Linked DNA regions of Homo sapiens. The protein of the gene in region 1 interacts with the protein of each later gene in a pairwise test. Each region holds a gene or a part of one and is shown on either strand. Other genes may lie near its edges. The genes, in order: FAM110B and MEIS3.

Region 1 (14,065 bases):
TGGTTTAGGGATGTTCACGGGATGGAACTCAAAAATGTGTGAAAGGCATTATTACAGTTCTGGGGACAACATATGTGCCTAATAAGAAATGGTCATTACTAATGGGGCATTATTACAGTTCTGGGGACATTGTATGTGCTTAATAGGAAGTGGTCATTACTAACAGGTAATTTTTTAACATAATTTTTGTAGCAATTTATCTAATACACTCACAGAGGAATTCACCCAAAATACTGCTTTTTCTCCCTTCAAATTTAAATGTTTCATAATTTTATTATAACACACATTTTATTTCAGAGTAAATATCATCTTCTGCCCTAAGGCTGTTTACTAGAAATTAAAATATTTTTCAAAAATAAATGTTCTGTATATATTGGCACAGTAAACTTTATCATTTGTGCTAGATTTGCCCTAGAGTACAAGTTTACACAGCTAAAGGAGAAAGCAGTAACATGCAAAGTGCGGACCCTTAAAATGGACCTTGGTAGAAGCACTGGGCACGGCTCCCCAAATCCACACCACCCTGGGTTCTGGTCTGGGCTCTCTCTGCCACTCACCAGTACTCACCCTCTCCTCTATACAAGGGGATCAGACCGCCTTTTAAGGAGGCTCGCTGAGATGAGGTGTGGGAACTCACAGCACAAAGACTTATAAACTGCAGGAGTTACTACCAGAGTTTATAATCACCGAGTTCATTGAGTTGTTATTACTGCTGGAAGGTGTGCCTGGTTCACCCAAAATGGGGAATCCACTAACTCTCAGACTTACAGTAGCCAGCAAGTCCTTTTTTTTTTTTTTTTTTTTTTTTTTAGACAGAGTATTTAGCTGTGTCTCCAGGCTGAAGTTCAGTGATGTGATCTCGGCTCACTGCAACCTCTGCCTCCCAGGCTCAAGCGATTTTCCTGCCTCAGCCTCCTGAGTAGCTGGGATTACAGGCACGTGCCACCACGCCCAGCTAATTTTTGTATTTTTAGTGGAGACGGGGTTTCACCTTGTTGGCCAGGATGGTCTCGATCTCCTGACCTCGTGATCTGCCCACCTCGGCCTCCCAAAGTGCTGGGATTATAGGCGTGAGCCACCGTGCCCCGGCCCAGCAAGTCTTATAAACTCTGTGACTGGAGTAGACTAGTCTGTAAAAAATGACAGTGGTCCCTTGAACTCCACATTCATTTAATATTTGGTCATGGCCTCACACATTGTCACAACTGAGCATGAAGCCACATAAAGCTCTCCACAGGAGAGGAAACACTGGCAGAAAGGGGGATCATTTTATGTTTGTTTGGATAGGGCGGCATTCTTATTGTATTTGCGTAAAGGAATTCTAGTGGCCCTGCTTTTTAATTACTTAAAGTAATTTTCATCAAGCAAGTCATTATATTTCCAAGTGATTCTTGGCACTGGTTATGCGCAGCACTGATTTCTGTAATCCCAGGTAAAAGGCAAGGCTCCCCCTCACTGATGCAAGTTAGGGGCCCTCTTATAATAACACATTCCTTACCTTAGGCCAAGGAAGAATGTCGAACTGGAAATGTGAAATTTTTTTCTGACTCTCTATTTCATTGTAGTTGTCTTAAATAGGACGAAAACATTTTAAAAGAAACTTCTAACATTTTTGTTAATGGCTTTACTTACAAATGAAAATGAAGCATGTGGATGACTTCTCTAAATGACCTTGGAGAATGACATTAAAGTAAAGAATCCATCGTGGATTGAGATTTGACCGGCTATTTTTCTCCTACCACCAGATTTCATTTGTAATAATGGCTTTATTGTTTACTCTAGCCTGTTTCACTCACATAACTGTTTGCTTTGAAATTTGAAACTACATATTTTCTCTGTAACTCAAATAAAAATGGGGTCATACAAGTGACCTTTTAGCCAGAAACTGCATGGTCAATCCTCTTTGACAGAAATAGCACAGGCCGTATCACTTGAGAGTAATGGAATCCTTTTAAGACAAAAGATCATTCATTTACCATAAACCTTGAAATCTAATGATGGTGATTATCAATGCCAAGTTGCAGACACTGGGGACAGCATTTAATAATAGCTTACATTGGCCAGGCACGGTGGCTCATGCCTGTAATCCCAGCACTTTGGGAGGCCAAGGCAGGCGGATCACCTTAGGTCAGGAGTTTGAGACCAGCCTGGCCAACATGGTAAAACCCCGTCTCTACTAAAAATACCAAAAATTAGCCAGGCGTAGTGGCAGGCGCCTGTAATCCCAGCTACTCAGAAGGCTGAGACAGGAGAATCATTTGAAATAGGAGGCGGAGGTTGCAGTGAGCTAAGATTGCGCCATTGCACTCCAGCCTGGGCAACACAGTGAGCCTCCGTCTTAAAAAAAAAAACAGCTTACGTTTACTGAACAATTTCTGGGCTGAGCTCCTGACCAAGCACTTTCATGTGTCACCTCAAGGAATTCTCACCCCAGCCAGTGAAGTGTAGGAATCATGGTTATCAATGTTCCATAAATGAGGAAACTCAGGTACACTAGCTGGAGAAACTTGCTCAGGGTCAAGTGTCCTGTGTTCTTTTTCCGTGCCCTAAGCATTTGCCCCACTGAATTCTCATTTCTTTGCCTGGATGAAATCTCAGACAGGACCTGTAGCCTTTTCAGTTCGTCTTCAATAATTTAGTCCCCAGATCAGTTTCAGACCTGGAAGAGTGCTGCCTCACATCAAGATCAAAACTCCACCTCTGGTCCAGTTAAACTGGTTTCTCTTCTCCCAGCTCAGGGCCGCATTGGCTTGGAGACCCTGTGAAGAAGAAGCATCATTTTCCCCTTTACTTGCTCCAGCTCCTCTCCTGCTCCTTATCAGACGGCTCTACCAGCCTCTACTGGGCAGACCCTGCATTGCGTAATGAGCAAGGGACGGACAGAGCATTCAGCGGAAGTGACAAGGTTTCTCTCCCTGGCTCTTGCAGTGGGAATCAATGTCCCCTGGGCATGGCACATTTCAGAGCTGGTTCTCTCTGGGAGCTTTTGGGTTCCGTGGAGGCAGCCACGCCTCTGCTCAGCTAGTGGATGCCCCCAGCCTTCTCAGAGGAGGGCTTTGGGCAGACATTGTTTTCTGTTGGCCTCCTTTGAGGGGACTTCTTTGAGAATACTCCTAGACCACCTTTCCCCGGCACATGTGTGGGCCGAGCAAACCCTCATTTTTGTGCCTGTGGAAAGGCAGCTTCATCCTGCCTGTGTGATCTGGTTAGAGAGTCCATTACAGACTCTGCCCTTAGACTTCTCAGACTGGAGGTATAAGCCAGTTCCCAGGCTCCTCAGCTCCAAGGGGCCTGTGTTGGGCTTTTTTGGGTGGCCTTGAATTCAGCCCCAGCCAGTGTGAGATGAGAGGAGGCTATGGCCACCATTGTGTAACTGAGCACCGAGTGAAGGGCTTTAGGCAAAGCTATTCCCATTCCAGTAGACTTGCTAGCTTGCTTCGCCCACCTGACATCCTGTGAAACCTTTGTGGGTAACAAACTGTACCCAGTCCACTCCCTCCTGACTTGCCACTTGGAGGATCCTGTCACAACGTAGTGCATATTCACTTAAGTCAAAATAACTTTTCCGTTTGATCAACACGCCTGTGTGAGTTTTGTGCTGTTGCACTAGTATTCCTCAGCACACCTCAGGAGCACCACTGGGGTGGACATTCCTTGACCTGTATCTGTAAAAACGTTAGAAGGTAAAAGTTGGCCTTCCCTGCATCTCTACACCTGGTTCAACATTTGCTTCCCATCCTCTGGTCATATAGAGTAGATGTGTCAAAAGAAACAAGACTTTAAAAGGTTGCTGAAAAAGTGGAGAAATGATTTACTCATCTTGTCGAAAAAATTAAAGTGCCTAATTAAAACAAAATAATGGAAACACAGAGCAAGAGGATACTTTATTAAATAACATTGGAAGACCTACTGTAGTCAGCTGAAAGAATACGCTAAAATATGACTAGACTACTGGAATGAGAAGTTTAAATATTATTAGGAAAAGTCTGTGGTTTTAAAGAATTTATAACATGATAGTGTTGTTGTCAAGAAGATTATTTTACTTGCAATCCGGAGCTGATTGCTGATGGCAATGCTAAGGTCAGAAAGAGAAGATTCAGGCATCAGAATTATAGATGGTGAGGGATTTCACCATGGAGATAAGAAAGAAAAAGACACAGCATTCAGTAATTGGAAAAGTGCAGGTCCTGAAAGGGTGATGGTTTTGACTTAATGTTTCCAGATGGTTGGCCCTCTGATTTCATACTTTCTGTCCAATTTATAGTGTGCAAAGTCAGTCTTTTTTGGTCAGCCTTTTACTCCTCCATTCGCTCTTTCACTTTTCTCCCTTACTTTTGCATTCTTTACAAGTTATGCTCACAGTATAAAAGGGGTTAATGAAAGTGATGATGTGCTTGGAAGAGAAGGAAAAGGGAAGATGTTGAAAAGCATAGCATATATTATGAATTAAAATGAATAAATACTTGGGGAGGCCGAGGTGGGTGGATCATGAGGTCAGGAGATCGAGACCATCCTGGCTAACAACGGTGAAACCCCGTCTCTACTAAAATTACAAAAAAAATTAGCTGGGCATGGTGGCAGCTGCCTGTAGTCCCAGCTACTCGGAAGGCTGAGGCAGGAGAATGGGATGAACCCAGGAGGCGGAGCTTGCAATGAACCAGGATTGTGCCACTGCACTCCAGCCTGGGCAACAGAACGAGACTCTGTTTTAAATAATAATAATAATAATAAATGTCTAAATAAAATGGATAAAGGAAGCAATGGAATGGCATTGCTGTTGGTTAAAAATGGCTCAGGCAGACGGAGCAGCAGGAATGGACACAGTGGGTGTGGAGGGACCACTGTAGTTGTAGTTCTGTTTGGCTTAAGCCCAGGGTGCAGAGGAAGAAGGGAACAAGGATTGGAGGGGAGAGTGTATACTTCCTGCCAACCACTTCTCCGTAGTCAAGTGGGAAGCTGGGAACGACTCATCCTCAACATGTACCTCCTCACCCTCTGCATCCTGTCTGTCTCCCAGTTCAGCCCAGCGTGCCTCTTAAACATCTCTTGAAACTGTCCACTCTTTTCTCCACCCTAAAGCCACCCTCCTGCTAAGAGTGAAGTGAATGAAAATGCCTGTGTGCTCTTATTTAACCCACTCAAAAAGCCCTCAAGAGGTAGGTACTATTGCTATCCCCATTTTCCAGATGGGAAATCTGAGGCACGAGAAGATAAAGTGAACTGCCCAAGGCTACTCAACCATTACGGGGCAGAACCATAGGCAGTGCCATATTGGGCGGTGCTCAGAGCCCAGCTGCCATGACCCCTTCCCTGGGAAGCTCTGACTCACCTCTGTGCAGCCACACTTAATCCCCACTCATCCTGTCCCCATACTGCAGCCAGGGGAGTTTAAAAAAATACAAGTATGACCATGTCACCAATGCTCAATTACCCAATAAAATCCAAAGTCATCTGCCTTTCCGCTACACCTAGTTGGCCTCTGACCGCTGTCCCCTAGCACTCCATACCAGCCACTGGAGTGTCTTGAATGTACCATGAACTCAAAAGCTGCCCTGATGAGGGATGCCCTCGCCTCCTGGGTCTTTATTGGAGTTTGTCTCCTCCTTACCCTTCCTTTACCTTCAAGTCCTTTGCCACAGTCCTGCCAAATTTATTTTCTACATCATTCATTCGATTCACATTTACCAAATGCATTTTGAATCTTTTTTTTAAGTTCAGGATTTTTCTACGTCTTACACATAATTGCTCCACCAATAGGTACTAATTAATTGAACACAGCCATAATTCAGTCAGTACTCTTGTATTGTAAATGAATCTCTCTTCCATTTGTAAAGAATCCAAAAGTTCACATTGCCGTGGGAAACTGCATTTTTACTTCAAAGACAAGGATGCGACTGTTCTTAAAAGGGAAGCCAAGAGTATAGATATGAGAGTGATCAGAGTCAAGTTGGAACCTGATGCTTAAAGTTAGTAAGCACAAATACTATTACCAGAAAAATCAAAAAGCAGTGTTCCAGAGAACAGTTTTACACATATTGTAAACGTTTTGTTATCTGGCATGTTAGGAAGCTAGAAGAATCAGTTCTAGAATTCTTAATAACTTCAAAGGTAAATTGCTTCTTTTATTTGCTCCCAAGAATGTTTGAGCTAAAGACATTTTTCAGCTCACCAGATTGAACACATTTGTTTTTATAGATAAGAAAATCAAGACACTTAGATGTTAGGTGACTTAGAGCTGAATTACTCAGCCTTGCTCTTTCAATACCCCCCTTTTCCTGCTGTGAGACACAGGGGAATTACTCATTCTCACATAGAAACTTCTGTGGGTGAATCCAGGTTGTGTTCAGTTCCCAGGGCCCTTGCTCTAACTCCAGTGCTTTCTTTCCTACTTAAAATTTAAAGACTAATTAGGCATTAACTATCCTTTTCTTTTTCATTACCAGAAGCACTCTTTAAAGAGGAAGTAACAAAACAGCAGCCCAAATGTGGCCAACAGTGTTTTTAATATTGAATTTTTAAATCGGGAGAGTTTGTGCAGAGCTCTGGATTTGCTGTTGCGTCAACAATGAGCCACATTCCCCATGGCAGCCCGTAGCGGGGGGCTCCTTTCCGAAGGCCACACACTCTCCCATTATCTGCCTGGCCTCAGAGGCTTTGAGGCACAAATTGCCCGGATTACAGGAACTTTGGCTTTAGCATTTTTTTCAAATAAACTGTGTATGAGGTTCATTCTCTATATCTAACCACCTCCAGGATTGCAAATGTTCTTGAGGTCTCCCCAAGGTTATAGTTCAGCTGAGGGTCCTGTTCACCTGACTGCACCTGTTCACCTGACTGCACCTGTGAGGAGCTGGCAGATGGGAAGTTAGAAAGGTTCAGGCCACTTTGGTTTTAAAAACTTGGAATTCTCTGAGATTGCTATTTCTGTGCCTAAAAAGCTCAGACTTTTGCTCATTCAGAGACAAGTAACTTTGGCCTGTTTCCTCTGTGCTGGAGGCATTTGGGTTCTAATGGGATGCTGGCTAGCACAGAAATGGGCTTCCCCCCTTTCCTGTTGCTACTCAAAGGCAACAAACAGCATCACCTGGGATCTGGTGAGAAATGCGTAATCTGGGTCTCACCCGAAATCTACCAAATCAGACTGTGCTTTAAGGAGATCCTTGAGGGGTCTGCAGGCCCATTAAAGTTTGAGAAGCACCACTAGAGTGAGTAGTGGGAGATAACATTGCTCTTCCTTGTCCTTGGGTCCTTTGTCCCCCAGCTGGCTCTATGTGCCACCTGTTCTCCCTGCACAAACCAGGACTCCCCCACAGATGATGTGCTCCCCCACCCCGACCCCTGCCACCATCACCCCCAGGCCAGATTGCTTTTGAGTTCACATTTGAGTTCATATCTGCTCTGATTCAGCGAACCATTAGCACCTTGGCTCTGCCAAGTTTCTTTTCCCCAGTCCTTTTTATCCCTTCATGAAATTTTCAAATGGATGTTAAACAGGGTAGAATGTAGCCAAGATGGTTTATGAATCGAAGTTTCTCCCACCCTCAGGCTGTGTTCTCTGTCCTGAGTCATAAGTCAAGGATCAGGCAAGGCTATATAATTATTTTTGTTGATGAAACCCTACGGGGCCAAGATCTAATTTTCCTTCCTCAAAACAACACGAAGCCCCTCTCAGCCTGGCGGTTGGCCTATCCCATCAGTGCCTGACTGCACCTCAGGGGGCCTGTTCAGGACATCAGAGGGCTGACAGCAAGGCCACAGCCAGTAGAGTATCATGTGCCACAGTGCTCTCTGAACAGACGTCATGGTTATCTCGTACAAAGTCTACACTACAAAACTCAGAGTATTTCTCCAGCACTGTATAGCTCTGTCCCAGCCCACACTGTTTCACAGTAAAAAATAAAAGAACCAGAGTTAAGGATTAAGTAAATATTACAAGAGACAGCAACCTAAGTCACCTGCTTATTTTTGAAGTAGGTTTACTTTGTTGGCTAAACCAGGTAGAAAACTTGGAGTATGCCTTAGTATCCCACAACACCCCAAACAGTATCTTTAGTTTGTTCTGTTGCTTTTGGGTCTTCCAATAAGATGAAGTTGTTTTTTTTCCTTCCCAGAGTTCACATCAAAACTATAAACTCTAACCATGGTCATGTCAAAACATCATCACTGTGTTGAAAATTATTAGGGAAATTGGGAATAGCAGAGGAGGAGTGGGAAGGGGTAGAAGCCAAAAGGAAATGAAGTATGAAATACTTGCAGATAATTGCTATGTGTGACATAATTCTTTCACACAGATTTTAAGATTAGTAATTGTTGAGGGGTGTGGAACAATTGTGAGTGCTGGAGGAGCCGTCTTGAGGGTGTCTGCCACATGAATAGAGAAAGCAGTGTGCAAGGAAGACAAGCAGCTTTCTGGAAAATGCTTCTTAGAAGATAGACTGGTATTCCTCACTCTTGTGAATCGACAGTCAGGCTTTTTATTCAGTGTTGCCAACAGTACCAAAGCCTACCTTAACAGACACGCAGGTGTGCATGGAAGGCCACGCCAGTGGTGTAGGTGTTTTAGGCTTCTGGTCCTAATATGATAGAACTAGAAGAGAAGATGGTTAGAAGAGAAGCACAGGCCTGCATGAGGAGGAATGTTACATGAGAACTACAACTCATCTTCAGAGAGCGTTGGCCTAAGAACAGTCAGTGCGGGACCATAGAAAAATTCAGTCATTCACCAATATTCCAACACGCCATTTTGAAACTGGAAGTAATTCCTTCATTCTTAGATCCTCAGAACCTCACGATTTTACAGTACGAAGGGATTGAAGGAATCTTGTCCAACTAACTCGTGCCCCAGGAGAAGGGAGATGAACTTTGTCTCCCACTGCCCACTAGGTGGTATTCCCACTCTAGTCCTCAGGCACAAAGCTGAAGGTTGCAGATCTTGGTCCTGCCCCTCACTGTGCCCCCAAACTTTCTGGTATTGTCCTGGGGTCAGCCCTCTCCCAAGGGTCCCGGGTATGATGACCTCGGAGTTGCATCCTGGCCCAGGCTCTGCTGCCTGTTCTGGCTCTGAGTCTCTTCTGTAAAGAGGATGAGATTGTGCCTCCAGAGGAATCGGGGCTCCCTTCTGGCATTTCATTCAAAATGTGTTCAAAGAAACAATCTCATTTCATCTTAATGGGAGGAGGTGTTTTTTGTTTTTTATACTAAATTGAGGTATCAAAATAGAACCGCACAATTAAAGGAAATTGTTAATGTAGGTATTGCCTTGGGGTTTCTCAAATCTTGCACAGGAAAATATTTTTATTAGAACAAATCCCTTCACAGATTACTAAAATTATCTCTAACAAAACATGGTGATGGGTTGCATTTACAGATTTAAGAATTTCAGGAAATTATAAGGAGAAATACCAGCAGATGTGGTTGTAATATGACTTTATTTATTTTGTAAATTAGTTATTTGGCATGTTAGTTGAATAGGTTACTCTCTTAGCATTCCTAATTATAACCAAAGATGCTGTTAAGGTCATTAGCCCCTTGCTTTGGAGTGCTGATGCATTTGTAAATGTTCTCTGCCTGCAGTAACAGGCTATGGGAGGAATTGTTTCCAGGGGCTGCAGGGTAAGAGTTACATTATATGGCATATGAAATAAAAAGACTCCTTACAGAATTACAGTAGGAATATTGATAAACGTTCAACTATTGACAAGTGGGTTTTATTGTTGTTGTTGGCTTGGTAGTCAAGTTGTCCCATGAAAGCTTACCTATTACCCAAGTTTTCTATAGTATTAAAGTAACATATTTTTAGGTATGATTGGACACTTTTAAGACTTTGTTCCTAGTACTGTAGAGGATTTGGGAATATACATACCATGAAGAAACTTTTGATTTCTGCTCATTAAGTATGAAAAATTATGGATAACTTAGGGACAATCAAATTATCTACTCATATGGTAAATTTGGAAGTATTTCTATGGATCTTCTAATGTTAAAAAAAAATAAGCTTGTGTTTAATGGGTGGAACTCCATACACATTTGTGGTTTTCAGGAGAAAGTTTTTAAATATATTGGTTGGCCAAAGTAAGATAACTGAAACGTGTTGAGGTTTTTTTTTTTTTTTTAAACTTTGTAGCTTTGCTGCCAATCCCATTTCTTGCCCTTTTCAGTTTATGAAGTTAAAAAAGTGACTGTTGCAAGTATTCCTGAGAAATTGGTAGTACAGAGGGAGAAGTTTTGCTTCATTGCAAAAGAGATAATTCACGACGTTGCAACCGGGGGGCATGGAAGGGATTCGTAGGAACTCAGTGGCATGTAATGAGCTGGGGAACAGGGCTTGGCTAAGCCCTCATTCCTACGTTCATCAAGTATTTGCTGGGTTTTGAGCTGAGAAATGCCAACCGGGCGTGTTCAGAAGGCGGATCTCACCAATCCGGAGGCAGCTGGAAGAGTTCGCGCGTGGGAAACCTCAGCCCTTTCTTTCTTCCCGGCACAGCGTTGTGCTGCCGCGCGTCGGCGCAGGCGGGGGCGCAAGGCCCGGGTCGTCCCCCTCGCGCGGTCGGGAAAACAGCTACTGAGCTGCGGCCCACGACCCTCGGCCGCGCAGGGGCGGGGCGGGGGCGCTGCGGGGTTTCTCTGTTGCTAGAGCCGTGATGTCACCCGCCCCTCCTAACCCGCGGTTGGTTGTTTTGTGTTTCAGCTCTGCCTGCAGTTGAACACAAAGACCTGGAGGAGACTCCCACCTCCTTCAGGGAGAAGAAAGGAGGCAGCGAAGCAGATTAAAGGAACTTGTGGCTTGTGGCCTTTTTGTGCAAGGGCCGCCTGGAAGGGGAGAAAAGTGTATGAAAGCCACCGTGGCGGTTAATGAGCTGTGAGATGAGGCGCTGCTGCGGCCGCTGCTGCTGACACTCGCTCCCAGGCTGCACCCGCCGCCCTTGGCGCTTCATGTACATGTGTCTATTCAGGCCTTGCGGAGGCGCCCAGAAGAGCATCCAACACGGCTGCCGGGGAAAGACCGCCCACCATGCCCACGGAGACCCTACAGACAGGTAGCATGGTGAAGCCGGTCAGCCCCGCGGGCACCTTCACCTCTGCTGTGCCCCTGCGCATCCTGAACAAGGGGCCAGACTACTTCCGCAGGCAGGCCGAGCCCAACCCCAAGAGGCTCAGCGCCGTGGAGAGGCTGGAGGCCGACAAGGCCAAGTACGTCAAGAGCCAGGAGGTGATCAACGCCAAGCAGGAGCCCGTGAAGCCCGCCGTGCTGGCCAAGCCCCCGGTGTGCCCGGCTGCCAAGCGCGCACTGGGCAGCCCCACGCTCAAAGTGTTCGGCAACCACGCCAAGACCGAGAGCGGCGTGCAGAGGGAGAACCTGAAGCTGGAGATCCTGAAGAACATCATCAATAGCTCCGAGGGCTCTAGCTCGGGCTCGGGGCACAAGCACAGCTCCCGCAACTGGCCGCCCCACCGGTCGGAAGCCACTGACCTGCACCGTCACTCCTTCGCGGAGTCCCTGAAGGTCTACCCCACGCAGGGCCGCAGGAGCCCGCAGGAGGGCGGCTCCCACGTGGGCAGGAGACTGCTGGAGCAGTCAGCCGAGTCCTTCCTCCACGTGTCCCACAGCTCTTCGGACATCCGCAAGGTGACCAGCGTGAAGCCCCTCAAGGCCATCCCCTGCAGTAGCTCTGCCCCTCCCCTGCCTCCCAAGCCCAAAATCGCAGCCATCGCCTCCATGAAGTCCCCCGAGGCCGACCCTGTGGAACCAGCTTGTGGAGTCAGCCGAAGACCCTCCCTCCAGCGGTCTAAGTCAGACTTGAGTGACAGATATTTCCGAGTGGACGCGGACGTGGAGAGGTTCTTCAACTACTGTGGACTGGACCCGGAAGAGCTGGAAAACCTGGGAATGGAAAACTTTGCAAGGGCTAATTCTGACATAATATCCCTCAACTTCCGCAGCGCAAGCATGATCAGCTCAGACTGTGAACAGTCTCAGGACAGTAACAGTGACCTTAGAAATGATGACAGTGCCAATGACCGCGTGCCGTATGGCATTTCTGCCATCGAAAGAAATGCTAGAATCATCAAGTGGTTATATAGCATCAAACAAGCTAGAGAGTCACAGAAGGTCTCCCATGTGTAAGACAGTGCGTGGAAAGGAGGGAGCGTGGGTCTCTGTGCTTACGCAGTTGTGAAGGTTGTGAGGTCTCCTTGAAGTGTTGTGAGCTTCTCCACTCTTTGTGTTGCTTGTTGTGCAATGTTTTCAAGTTGCATGCTTGTCAACATGGGGACTGACCTGGCTTCCACGTCACCATCGCTACAGAGCCTGGCTGAACACGCGTCATCTGCCAAAAGTTTCAGGCCAGAATCTAATTAGGGCTTTGCTCGTAAGCAAAACTGTTTACATGAAAATGGTATACAACTTCTTCGATATTTATGTGGTTCTTGTGTTTTTATATCCCGCGCTATTGTGTCTTAATTAAAAGTTTTATCAACTGGCTTTTAAGTTGAGAGCAGAATCTTTTTGAAATAAAAAGCCACTTTGCCTACATGTGAGACTATTCCAGTGGGACAGTAAATGGGATCTGCTACCAAACAGATAATGACTGACCGAACATAGAACCAGGCTGGGTTTTCTGTGGAATAAAGTGGTGAGCCTGACGTTAATCGTTTACATGTTGAAATTCTCTTGCCACTTAGTGAAGCAGTCATTGGGGTAACAATGCTACGTTTTGTGTCCGATTCAGTGTGTAAACGTTGGTGGTTCTATGTAATACTGACCCCAAGGAAAGACGATCAGATACAAAGAAAGATGGTTAAATCTAGGAGGTTGGGTGTTTGGGGGTTTTGTTGATGTTGTTCTGATTGGGATAATTCAGAAATTCCTAATATTATCTTTCGACAGAATGACCACCCTAAAACAAATACTGAATGCCTTTAAAAAAAAAAAAAGTTGTGGTTTTTTGTTTTTTTTTTTTTTTTTTTTGGTCGAGAACTACTAATTTCATGCTATTTCTTTCTCTCTCCCTTTGTTGTTATTTGATTTGGGGGAAGGGAGTGAGGCTTGTGCAGATTTGAGCTATCTGAAGACATGAACAGAAGTCAAATACCAGCCATATCAGTAGAGCCTTCCATTCAAAAGTGAACACACTTGGTAGCTGAACCATATCTGAGCAGCGTGATTCTGTTGTCTTGCATATGTTATTCTCTCAGGCTGTGGATCTTTGTTACAGCTCTAGGAAACTGTAGAAATACAATGCTATGTAGCTTTTCCACCCCATGGTCTCTAGTGCTGCCTATCAACTTGTCCCCTTTTTTCCCAATAACCTGTCTTCCAGGTGGTACAGTTAGCTGTCACTCAGCTGACACCATGATGTGGCAGCAGAGAGGGAAACCTACAAGTGGTTTGCCTCATTGCCTTTGCCACATCTGAAGTTCTCAGCAGCACTACCTTAGACTTCATGAGCTAATAGGAAACTTTTTATGGTGTAAATGCTGTAAGACTTTGTACATACTTCAGTTGTTATGAAATCTTTAAAGAAAAAAAGAAAAAGTTACGCTAATAAATTGCTGTGGTGCAGGCACTAATGGTGGTGGTTTCTCTTTGTCCTGTATTGCACAAAAGTTTAACTTTGGACTATGAAACAGAAGCAGATTTTTGATAGGCTTGAAGAAACATTATTTCATTAAGTTATTTTCACCATATTCCAATTACTCTAAACACCAGTGTTCTTAATTGTGGCTCTAGCAATGTGCTTTTGCTAAACTGATTACATCAAGGTTCCTAAAATGTGCTGCAGCATCTCAGTTCACACTTGTGTTATTTTTGTCTTTTCTTAAACATCAGGATTTTTTACATCTTCCACACAACTCTTCAGTTATAAATATTTTGAGTTCTCACCTTGGAGGCACACCTTTGAAATGTATGGCTTCGTTTTTATTTGTACCAGCCCAACATCCCTACCATGGCATGTGTTCACACACTCGCTCCTCCACTCCTTCCTTCATTCCTCTTCAAAATGTCACTGTTTGAGTGACTCATTTCAGGTATCATGGTAGGCACGGGACTGCCATAGTCAACAAC
Region 2 (11,197 bases), on another chromosome or scaffold:
CGGCACGTGGGCAACAATCATGACGGTTTGGGGACATGGACCAGGTGGCCTTCTCTCTGCACCCCCCCCACCAACCCCAGGGATGGGGCGTCAGGGAAGGAGACCCATTGGAGGAGGGGGTGTGGGGGAGGGCTCGGGTCTCACCAGATTGTCCAGTTCTGGGTTGGAGGAGAAGAGGGGCCTCTCAGAGCGAACCTGGGAGGGAAGAGAGAGGCCGGCAGGGGGATGTCCCGCCTTCCACCCACCCCTCCTCGCTGGCTCTCTGACTCGGTGTGTGGTGGGTGGGAGGTGCCCACCTGCTTGGCAAAGGCAGCGATGTCCTCGTTGAAGGAATCAGAGGAGCAGACGTCACCTCCAGGGGGTGTCCCCAGCCCAGCTCCGGCCCCGTCACGGGGAGAGCATGTAGCCAGTTCACATTTCTCAAAGACCAGGGCCAAGAGGGGGAAGAGCGGGTGTCTGGGGAGGCAGGAAAGGAGAGAGGTTGAGGGAGAGGCTGGGAGGTGGATGGAGGGGCTGCCAAGATGCAGAACAGCTGGGGAGGGGACAAGAGACCCAGAGAGGGAAGGAGACAGAGACTCGTACACAGAGAGAGACAGAAGCAGACCCAGGGAGCAAAGAAGCAGAAAGACAGAGAGAGAGAGACAGGAGCCTGAGACCCGGCCCCACTCACCCATAGATCTCATCCTTCTCCCTCTTCAGGCCGTCGCTGTCCAAGCCTGGGGGCAGGGGCTGGGGAGGCCGGTGCGGGCCATAGGGCCCTGGTACTGCGGGCACTGTCTCTGGGAAGCTAGCCAGGGCTGCGGGGCCATCCACGATGCCTGGGTAGTGCGGCAGCTCATCATACTGGGGGAAGGTGAGAAGAGAAGGGCGGAGCCCCAGGGAGGGGTCAGCACCCCGAGACTCGGCTGAGGAGCTTCTCTATCCTGGAACCCAGGAGATGCCCTTCTGTGTCCCAGAAACCTGCCTGTGGTCCCCAGGTGTCTGAGCCCCCAAGCTTGAAGCCCTCCAGGTCCCCTGGAGCTGCCTCGGTGGGGAGTGAGGACCCCGTCCAGGCAGAGATTCCTGACATGTGGGCAGGAGGACCCAGAGGGAGAGACGGCAGGGTCTGGCTGGGAGGGAAAAGAGATGGAGAAAGTGGCGTGAGAAGACAGTGACAGAGACAGAGAGAGAGACAGACAGAGAGGGAGATCCATGGACACCTCCTGTAGGAACCGCGCATTGTTGTACACAAAGTACACATACGAAGCCTCCCTGTCTTCTATTTCATTTCACAGTTGGCAGATAAGCGCATCAGAGTAAGTCTCAACAACATGTCACACTCCACTCGCCACGTGAATCTACCACACATGTAGACACAGCCATACACACCAACCCACGTGCACACTCATGTGTCAGTCACACCCAAATCCCCCCCCCCACACACACATGCACACACACATGCACACAGCCCAACACCAGGCACAAGAATGAATGCATGATTGAGACATTTGGCACATGGATGAATGAATGAATGAGGCATTTAGCACAGGGCCTGGCTCATGCTGTGAGCACTTGTTGCCGGAGAGGGTCACTCCGCACCACCATACAGACACGATTGCGCACCCAAGAGAAACACCATTATGGGGTAGGACGACCGCGTCCTGTCGTCACAGAACCATGCACCTGGGAAGCCAGGGGCACCTTCCTCTCATCAGGTCAAATCCCTTCCTCAGTGATGAAGACACGGAGGCTCAAAGAGGCAGCAGGACTCGCACGGGAAGAGGCTAGAACGTTCCTGCCTCGGACCCTCGCCTGGCTGGGCACCCTGGTTCTGTGTGTCCCACTCTTTCCCTCTCCCTCTTCTCCTAACTTCTCCTGTGCCCTGAAGTTGAATCCAACTGCTCCCCGCTGCTCAAGGCACTCTCACCAAAAGCGGTCCTCACAGCCTACCCGGAACCCCCAAAACGGGCGCGCGCCTCCTCCCCTGTCTTCTATCCCCGTTCCCATCCCCAGGGAGACAGGCTCCGTGGGGCCAGCAGCCTGGTGAGACCACCTCTCCCACCCCTGTCCCACTCCTAGCCCTGGAGAGGCAGGGGCGGCTTGGAACAAAAGTAGAGCGAAGGGAAGGACGGAGGAGAGCAGAAAAAAGGGGGGACGGTGAGGTGCGGGCGGCTGAGATGGAGGAGGAAGCCCAGGAACAGAGGAGAGAGACTGCGGGTGGGGGAGGGCAGAGAGAGGGGGATAGAGAGGCAGAAAGAGGGGGGAGACCAGGGACAGAGAGAGGGGGACAGAGAGGCAGAAAGGAGGAGGAGAGTGGGGCAGACAGAGGGGGACAGAGGGGCAGGGAGAAGGAGAAGCTAAACGATGGGGAGGAGGCGAGGCCGAGGGCCAGGAAGAGACACTTGGGGGCAGAGAGGGGGCACACAGGGACTGGGAGACCCAGGGGCGGAGGGAGGGGCAGAGAGAGAGCGAGGTGGTGTAGAGGACGGATGGGCTAATGGGGGCCAGCGCCGGAGAGTGGGGGATGCAGGGACAGGGGGTGCGGAAGCGGCCGGGACGCGGGGTCCCCGCCCCGAGACCTACCCTCCGGGCCATGGGCTGAGGCCGGCGGCAGCTCCTGGGTCCCTCCAGAGCCTGGCCGCGGGGGAGGGCGCAGCCCGGGGCCGCAGCCCCTGACGGCCCGCGGTGTTGACGCCAGGGGGTGGGCAGGAGGCCAGGCGCGCGCCCCCCCACCCCCGCCGCCGTCAGCGGCAGGCGCCGGGCCGGGTGGGGACTCCGCGCATGGACCCCGGCCCCCGCCCCCAGCGGGGGTCACGGCCAGGAGCGCATCGCCGCCGGGGCGGGGGCAGCAGGCGCAGGCGGGGCGCCCGAGGCCCCCTCCTCTGGGCCCCCCCCGTCCCTTCCCCGGCTCTGGAGGGAATCGAACCGTCCCGAGACGGACACACCGGGGACCGCAGGGGGCGGGGGGCGGCCCGGGGCGACGGAGGGTCCGGCGGCGGCTCAGGGGTGCTGGCAGCCGCGCTCCCCGTTCCCGGTCTCTCCCTTGTCTTGTGGAAATTAAACAGAACCACCAAGGAGCGGGATAGGGGATGAGCCAGAGTGAGCCTGCAGAGCTACAGCACGAGGGATTGGGGTTAGGGCAGCAGCAGCACTTCCGGTGGGAGTCGGGGAGGGGCAGGCTGTGGGGGGAGGAGAGGAAGAGACCGCGGCCCTGGTGCCCCCAGGCCCCTCCTCTCCTACCCAGGGCTGGGGTTCCTGCTCCGGGTTTCTCAGTCTCCCTCTTTCCCAGTCTCTCTCTCCTTGTCTCTCTCTGTCTCCGCTTCTCCCGTCCTTTCTCTCCTCTGGCTCTCTGTTCTCCGAGCCCCCTGGACACACCACGGACCCCCTCCCTGGCCATCTCCAGGGGTCACGTGGGAATCTGGAGTCTGGTCCCACCGTAGGCTCTCCCCTCTCTGAGGCTCGATTCCCCCTCTGCAGGATGGGCAGTGCGCTGGGGGCGGCGGGGGTGGGCTGTGGATAACGGAGAAACAGTTAAGCTAGAGGGTGCCAGGACTCAGGGTCTTGGCTGAGTCTGGGGGTCCCCATGCCGGCGGGCTCTGCCCCCGTGGCTGTCCTGCGGTGAGGCTGGCCGTTTAAGGCAGTCCGAGGGGAAGGGTCTGGAGGCCTTGCCTTTCCTCAAGGCCGGCGCACCCCAGATAGGGGTTTTGGAGCAGAAAATTAATTTAAATCACTTTTTAATTAAAGACACAAGGCCCTTTGGTCTGCTCCACCCCCACCTCACCCTCAGCCAAGACTTGGGGTGAGGGATGCAAGGGTTAGGAGTCTCTGGCTCTATTTGCTTTTTTGGGGGGTGGTGCATGCTAAGGTCCCCTTAGCCCAGGCTGATTCTGAAACCTAGAGGAGCAAGTGCGGCCTCATCTGACGGCCAGTGGTGGGGGGCGTGGACAGAGCAGGAAGGGAGGGAGGGGGCACCTGGGATGGGGATGGGGCCTAACTGGAGTGGGGAGGGAGGTAACTCCAGTGACGGTGTGATTCAGAGAGAGAGAGAGACAGAGACAGACGCGGGTGGGAGGAGAGAGAGAGAGAGGTGCAGACAGAGTGAGACAGACAGGAGGGGGAGGGAGTGGGGGACAGGAGCTCCAATAGAGACCCTGGAGTCGTCCCTGCCACCCCCAAAACAAGAGCAGGGGGCTTGGACTCTGAAGCATAAATCTTTCTAATTAAAGAAAGAGACGAGCTGTTGGGAAGGGAGAAATAAGTGTGTGGGAGAGAAATTGATTGGGGGAGGATGGAGGATGCCGGCGGGGGACGGAGGGAGCAGGGGGGAGGCTCCGGCTTTCTGAGGCTCTTCCTCCAGTCTTTCCCTCTGTCTGTCCATCCGTCTGTCTGTCCGTCTCTGTCTCTCGCTCTCTCTCTCTCTCTCTCACACACACACACACACACACACACACACACTCTCTCTCTCTCTCTCTCTCTCTCTCTCTCTCTTCCTGGCTGTCTCCCTTAAATAGTCCTGGGACCCTTCTGTTCCCAGGGGGAGGGAGCAGGTGGCGGCCAGGCCTGGTGCTGGAGCGGGGGTGCCTGTGTCACTGCGTCGCGGCTGCCTGTCGGCTCTTCGAGGGTGTGCTTGGGCCTCCCTGTGACAGTGTCTGGAAGCGTCTTCCCTGCCCGGCTGAGTGGCTCCCTGGGTGGCATCAGAGTGACCCCAGCTCCCAGTCTGCAGGGGTCTCCGCCCTCTAGCCCTGTCCTGCACCTGTTTTACAGACGGGAAGCGTGGAGCCCTCTATGAGTAGATCTGGGGGACCTCATGGGTCTCCCCAGCACGGGCTGGGCGATCTCTCAGCGGACTGGCCCTTCAGTGCCCCAACCTGAGCACCGACCACTGGGGCTATGCCCACCAGGCAGCCACGTCCCCCGGGGATCCGCAGTGGTCCCCAGGATCCCCTCTGAAAGCCTACAGGAGCAGACCGAATGAACGAGGATCCACCTTGGGTTCCTCCTGTCCTCTCTCTCGGGCCTGCTAGCCTCCTGCCTCGGTTTCCCCTCTTTATCAACCGCTCTGTGTCTGTCTCTCTCCTTCTGGGGGCCCAGGTTTGCTTCCTCCTCCTCATTCCAGGCTCTCTCTGAGAATCTGTGTCTCTGCTCAGGAGGGTGGGGGAAGAAGGGACCCTAAAAGACAGGCCGTCTCTGTCTCCATCTCCGCCTGGGCTATGTCTGTCTGTCTGTCACCTGGGCTGTGTCTGTCTGTCTGTCTCCTGGCTTTTTTTTTTTTTCTTGTATCTCTGTGTCTCTTTGTCTGGATGTCTTCTCTGCCTCATCTTTCTTATCTCTCTTTCTCTCCATCTTTCTCGGTCTCTCTCTCCAGGGGCCTCTGTCTCTTCTCCCTCCTTCCTCTCCCTCTCTCCGCCTCCCTGTCCCCCCCACCGTATCCTCCCTGGGCTTCTGTCTCCCTGGCTCTCTCCCCTCTCCTCCACCCGGGCCCTTCATAAATACATCGCCCCCTTCCCGTCCTCCCGCTGCCTGGCCCAGCTCCAGGAGAAGGAAACATTTATCTTGGTGGGGGCGCCCACCCCTGCGCCCGCCCCTCCGCCCGCTGGCCACGCCATCCATCACCCGAGCCCAGACTCCTGTGGCTCATTCGTCACCGGCCCTGACAAATGCCTGCCGCCCCCTTCCCCTCCCGCCCCACCAAGCAATCATACCATTAGCCACGGCTCAGCGGTGGCGGGAAGGACCCGGCCTGACCCGGGCGGGGGGCGGGGCACAGGCTGCGGCTCCCACCGAGACCCCTCTCTCCCTCTTTTCCTTCCCTTTCTATCTCTCCTCGCCCTCTCCGTCTTTTTTGTTGGAATCTGCTTTCCTCTGCCAGTTTCTCGCTGTGCCTCTGGGTCCTGTCTCCGGTCCGTCCTCCTCCTCATCCTCCTTTTCCTCACCCTCTCTCCTTCTCTCCTTCTGTCTCTGTCTCTCTCTTACTGAGTCTCTTTCCAGTTCTGACTCTGTCTCTGTGTCTCTCTATAACTGTATCTCTCTGTCTCTGCCCGTCTGTCTCTCCCTCTCTGTCTCTCATCTCTCTCTGTCTCTCCCTCTCTGCCTCTCCATCTCTCTCTCTGTCTCTCCACTCTGTCTCTCCCTCTGTCTCTCCCTCTCTGTGTCTCTTCATCTCTCTGTTGCTCCCTCTCTCTCTGTCTCTCCATCTCTGTCTCTCCCTCTCTCTCTGTCTCTCCATCTCTCTGTCTCTCCATCTCTCTCTGTCTCTCCATCTCTGTCTCTCTATCTCTCTCTGTCTCTCCTTCTCTCTCTGTCTCTTCATCTCTGTCTCTCCCTCTCTGTCTCTCCATTTCTTTCTCTGTCTCTCCATCTCTCTGTCTCTACCTCTCTCTCCATCTGTCTCTCCCTCTTGCTCTCTGTCTCTCCATTTCTCTCTGTGTCTCTCCTTCTCTGTCTCTTCATCTCTATCTCTCCCTCTCTGTCTCTCCATTTCTCTCTGTCTCTCTCTTTCTGTCTCTCCCTCTCTCTCCCTCTCTCTCTGTCTCTCCCTCTCTCTCCATCTCTCTCTGTCTCTCCCTCTTGGGGTCTGTCTCTCCATTTCTGTCTGTCTCACCATCTCTCTGTCTCTCCATTTCTCTCTGTCTCTGTCTCTCTCTGTCTCTCCATTTCTCTCTCTGTCCCTCCCTCTCTCTCTGTCTCTCCATCTCTCTCTGTCTCTCCATCTCTCTCTGTCTCTCCCTCTGTCTCTGTGTGTCTCTCTCCCTGTCTCTCCATGTCCCTCTGTCTGCCATGGGCTCTGTCGGCCCAGCCGTGCCTTTTAAATCTCTGGTCTCTGAGAGTACCCTCGGCGTTGGCCTCACTGGCTTTGTGTGCTGGGAATGGGGTGAGGGTCTTGCCCTGGCGCCCTGGGACGCCCGCCCCGCCCCGCTCCCCACCTCGCTCTCCTCCCTGGTGCTGTGTTCTGAGTCTCTGGGCTTCCTCCGTCTGCATCTTCTCTGCATCCTGTCTGTATCTCTGTCTCTGCTGCCTCTCCGGCCCCTGTGTTTTGTTCTTGGCTCTCTGCTCCCTCTCCAACTTCCCCTCCTCTTTTTGTGTCCCTTCTCCACCTCCTCCACCGTCTGTGTTCCCCCTCTACTGACCCCACCTACCCCTTTCAATCCACCACCCATGACATTCCCTTCCCCGCACTTCCCCAGGGAGAGAATTGCAGGGAGCAGGCAGGGAACGGGAGGCAAAGGTGGCGAGAAGGAGAGAGTGAGGAGGTACCTTGGGAGGCACTGAAGCCTGGAGCCTCATCCCTCTCTCCTTTGGCCATGTGTGCCTGGAAGTCCTCCCTAGTGTCTGATTTCAATCCTCAGGGGGACGGCAGAACGTGGAGGAGATGCCAGGTACCAACCCTTCCCGATTCCCTGGGAGAGGCCGAGGAGGGAGCTGGGGGCATCAGACCAGGAGAGAGGGCAACCTGGGCACAGTCAGTGCTGTGCTGGTGGCCACCCATTGCCTTACTGGAAGAGGGAGGTAGTGAGACCCCCGTTCTGGGAAGTAATCATAGCAGAGGCTGTCTCTGACCCACTCATACCACCTAGGACCCAACAGCATCTCTCACGCTGGCACCTGCGACCCTTCCCTGAATGCTTTCCAGACCAGGGTAGGAGGCGCTAGAAGTCAGCACCCCTAAAGAGGTCCTGGGCCACCATCAGACAGGAGTTAGTGGATACATAACCCAAAGTCTTCAGGTGGGGAACTCCAGAGTTCCCTGAGAGGTCCCCAGCAGGATGGAGACCTCATTGTCCACAGGGTGACCTGCTCATTCAACACTGCCTTTATTATTTATTTATTTATTTATTTGAGATGGAGTCTCGGTCTGTCACCCAGGCTGGAGTGCAGTGGTGTGATCTCGGCTCACTGCAGACTCTGCCTCCTGGGTTCAAGTGATCCTCCTGCCTCAGCCTCCCGAGTAGCTGGGATTATAGCCACCTGCCACCGTGCCCGGCTAATTTTTGTATTTTTAGTAGAGATGGGGTTTCACCATGTTGGCCAGGCTGGTCTTGAACTCCTGACCTCAGGTGATCCGCCCACCTTGGCCTCCCAAAGTGCTGGGATTACAGGCGTGAGCCACCGCGCCCAGCCTTCAACACCACCTTTAATGGTTTTCTTTCCCATCTCCCTCCAGTGCCTCCTGGGATCACCTCACAAATAAACTATTTCCCTCCCATCCTTGCTGTGGGCTGGCTTCTGTTGGTGCTCAGCCTAAGACGGTGGCCAGCGGGGGCATGATGGATGGGCAGAGAGGAAACAAAGGGAAAAGAGGGACCTCTCGTGGTGGTGAATCATATGTGTCTACGTGGCTAGGCTGTGCTGCCCTCATGTTCAGGCATCAGCCTAGATGTTGCTGTGAAGGGGTGTGTGTGTGTTTGAGACAGGGTCTTGCTCTGTTGCCCGGGTTGGAGTGCAGTGGTGCAATCTTGGCTCACTGCAACCTCTGCCTCCCGGGTTCAAGCGATTCTCCCACCTCAGCCTCCTGAATAGCTGGGACTACAGGTGTGAGCTACCACGCCCAGCCATTGTAAAGGTATTTTAAAAATGAGATTAATAGCCGGGCGCGGTGGCTCACTTTGGGAGGCCGAGGTGGGTGGATCACAAGGTCAGGAGATCGAGACCATTCTGGCTAATGCGGTGAAGCCCCGTCTGTACTAAAAATACAAAAAATTAGCCGGGCGTGGTGGCCGGCGCCTGTAGTCCCAGCTACTCATAGTCCCAGCCACTCGGGAGGCTGAGCCAGGAGAATGGCGTGAACCTGGGAGGCGGAGCTTGCAGTGAGCTGAGATCGCACCACTGCACTGCAGCCTGGGCGACAGAGCCAGACTCCATCTCAAAAATAAAAAAAATGAGATTAACATTTAATATCGATTGACTTTGAGTGAAGCAGATTGTATGGGTGGGCCTTATCCAATCAGTTGAAGGCCTTAAGACTGAGGTCCCTCCAGGAAGAAGGAGTTCTGCCTCCAGATGACTTTTAGGTTTTGCTTGGGTTTTGTTCATTTGTTTGTTTTTTGAGACAGGGTCTCACTCTGTCACCTAGGCTGCAGTGCAGTGGCATGATCATGACTCACTGCAGCCTCAACCTTGTGGGCTCAAGTGATCCTCCCACCCCAGCCTCTGGAGCAGCTAGGACTACAGGTGTGCACCACGATGCCTAGATAATTTTTATTTTTAGTAGAGATGGGGTCTCACTGTGTTGCCCAGGCTGGTGTCGAACTTCTGGGCTCAAACAATCCTCCCACCTTGGCCTCCCAAAGTGCTGGGATAACAGACATGAGCCACCACACCCGGCCTGGGAGGCTAATATATATTCATTTAATCCCCACGACAACCCTGTGACATAGGTACTGTTAGCATCATCATCACGCATTTTCCAGATGAGGGAACTGAGGCACAGAGAAAGTCAGCCGCTACACTATGCTGCCTCCCAGGACAATGTTAATCACTCCCAAGCTGACCCCATAGAGCTCTTTGCATCCAGGTGAGAATCATGACCTTCGGGGTGAGGTGACGGGACAGGTGTGAAAGTCCTCATGTTTTCCAAGCCTCAAGCTCTCAATGTGTCTCTCTTTGCAGCTGAGACCTTACTCATCTTCCTGCACCAAGACTCTACACCCCCTTTGTTTGCATTTGTTAAGATGAAGGTGTCCCAGACCTGGCACGATGGTTCACGCCTGTAATCCTTTGGGATTACAGTAGTTCACTTTGGGAGGCTGAGGTGGGTGGATGACCTGAGGTAAGGAGTTCAAAGGAGTTTGAGAACAGCCTGGGCAACATGGTAAAACCTGTCTCTACTAAAAATACAACAATTGGCCAGGTGTGGTGGCGGGCGCCTGTAATCCCAGCTACTTGGGAGGCTGAGGCAGGAAAATCGTTTGAACCCGGGAGGTGGAGGTTGCAGTGAGCCGAGATCGCGCCATTGCACTCCAGCCTAGGCAAAAGGAGTGAAACTCCATCTAAAAAAAAAAAAATTTGAAGGTGTCCCTTGTCCCATTCTACATCGTGGAACTCATCCTGTCCCATCTTTGCCCTTCTACCTGTGAAACTTTGGGCACATTGCTTCACCTCTCTGAGCCTTAGTTTCCTCTTCCGTGGAATGGGGTGATGTATAGAACTGGCAATAGGTTTAAGCAGATCATGCTTGGGGGGGTCCCCATCACTGCCAGCTGCTGTTAGCACAGGCCTCCCTTGCTTTCCTGTGCCCCTGTAGTCAATGCCCTCTACTGCTCCTCCAGCAACCTCCCCTCCTCACATCAGGACTCTCCAGAGAGTGATCTACATGCCCTGACTCAATTTCCCCACCTCCCACTGCAGATCAGTGCACCGTCTGCCCCTACACCTTCCACAAACCTGTTCTCATCAAGGCCTAAAGCCAAAGGTCGATTTTTTTTTTTTTTTGGTAGTGGGGAGACAGGGTTTTTCTCTGTCACTCAGGCTGGAGTGCAGTGGTGCAGTCCTAGCTCACGGCAGCCTCGACCTCCTGGGCTCAAGCAATCCTCCTGCTTCAGCCTCCTGAGTATCTGGGACTACAGGCACATGCCACCACGCTTGGCTAACTTTTAAAGTTTGTGGAGACACGAGGACTCGCTATGTTGTCCAGGCTGGTCTTGAATTCCTAGGCTCAAGCGACCCTTCTGCTTTGGCTTCCCAAAGTGCTGGGATTACAGGCGTGAGCCACCATGCCGTGGGCCTATTGTCTTACCTTGGACTTCAGGTTGGGTGCGGCCGGTGGGAGGAAGTGGCAGGAGACTAGCAGGTGGGAGCAGAATGAGGTCGAGGTGCTTACTCTCCCGGCGCCCCGCTATCCCCAGTGCAGGTTGGTGATGCCTGTACTCTTCTACTCTACAGACTCAGGTCCCCAGGTCTCTGCAGCCTCGGGTGCCTCTGCTCACCCCTTCTAGCCCAGGTATGGCAACTGCTCCCTCTGCTGCTAGCCCTGGGGTACTACACCTTCCCTCGTTTTCCCCAACCCTGCCCACTCCTCAGTAGCCCTTTCACCCAACTCTCCCTGGCTACTCCGTTTGAATGAACACACCACCTCTCTCCTGCCAAGATGCACTCCCTGAACTCCCTCACGCAGCCCCATCCATTCTCTCTCTCAACCACTCCCTTCTCACCATCGCCCTCCCACCCTCCTACTCCCCTCTCCCCTCGTCTGCTGCCTCTGTCCCTGCTCCAGCCTTGTCCC

Evidence for each region.
Region 2: the proteins of FAM110B (region 1) and MEIS3 interact in binary tests that used the Homo sapiens proteins (3 or more experiments, as listed by UniProt).

The regions. Positions count from the first base shown.
Region 1 is NC_000008.11:58,135,220-58,149,284, forward strand, and holds the end of FAM110B (protein FAM110B), read left to right. Parts: intron 1-10,687; 5' UTR 10,688-11,011; coding exon 11,012-12,124; 3' UTR 12,125-13,565; downstream 13,566-14,065. UniProt on the Homo sapiens protein: May be involved in tumor progression.
Region 2 is NC_000019.10:47,416,508-47,427,704, forward strand, and holds the start of MEIS3 (homeobox protein Meis3), read right to left. Parts: upstream 3,021-11,197; 5' UTR 2,575-3,020; coding exon 2,563-2,574; exon of another isoform or gene 1,241-2,562; coding exon of another isoform or gene 965-1,240; intron 844-964; coding exon 671-843; intron 457-670; coding exon 297-456; intron 196-296; coding exon 145-195; intron 1-144. UniProt on the Homo sapiens protein: Transcriptional regulator which directly modulates PDPK1 expression, thus promoting survival of pancreatic beta-cells. Also regulates expression of NDFIP1, BNIP3, and CCNG1.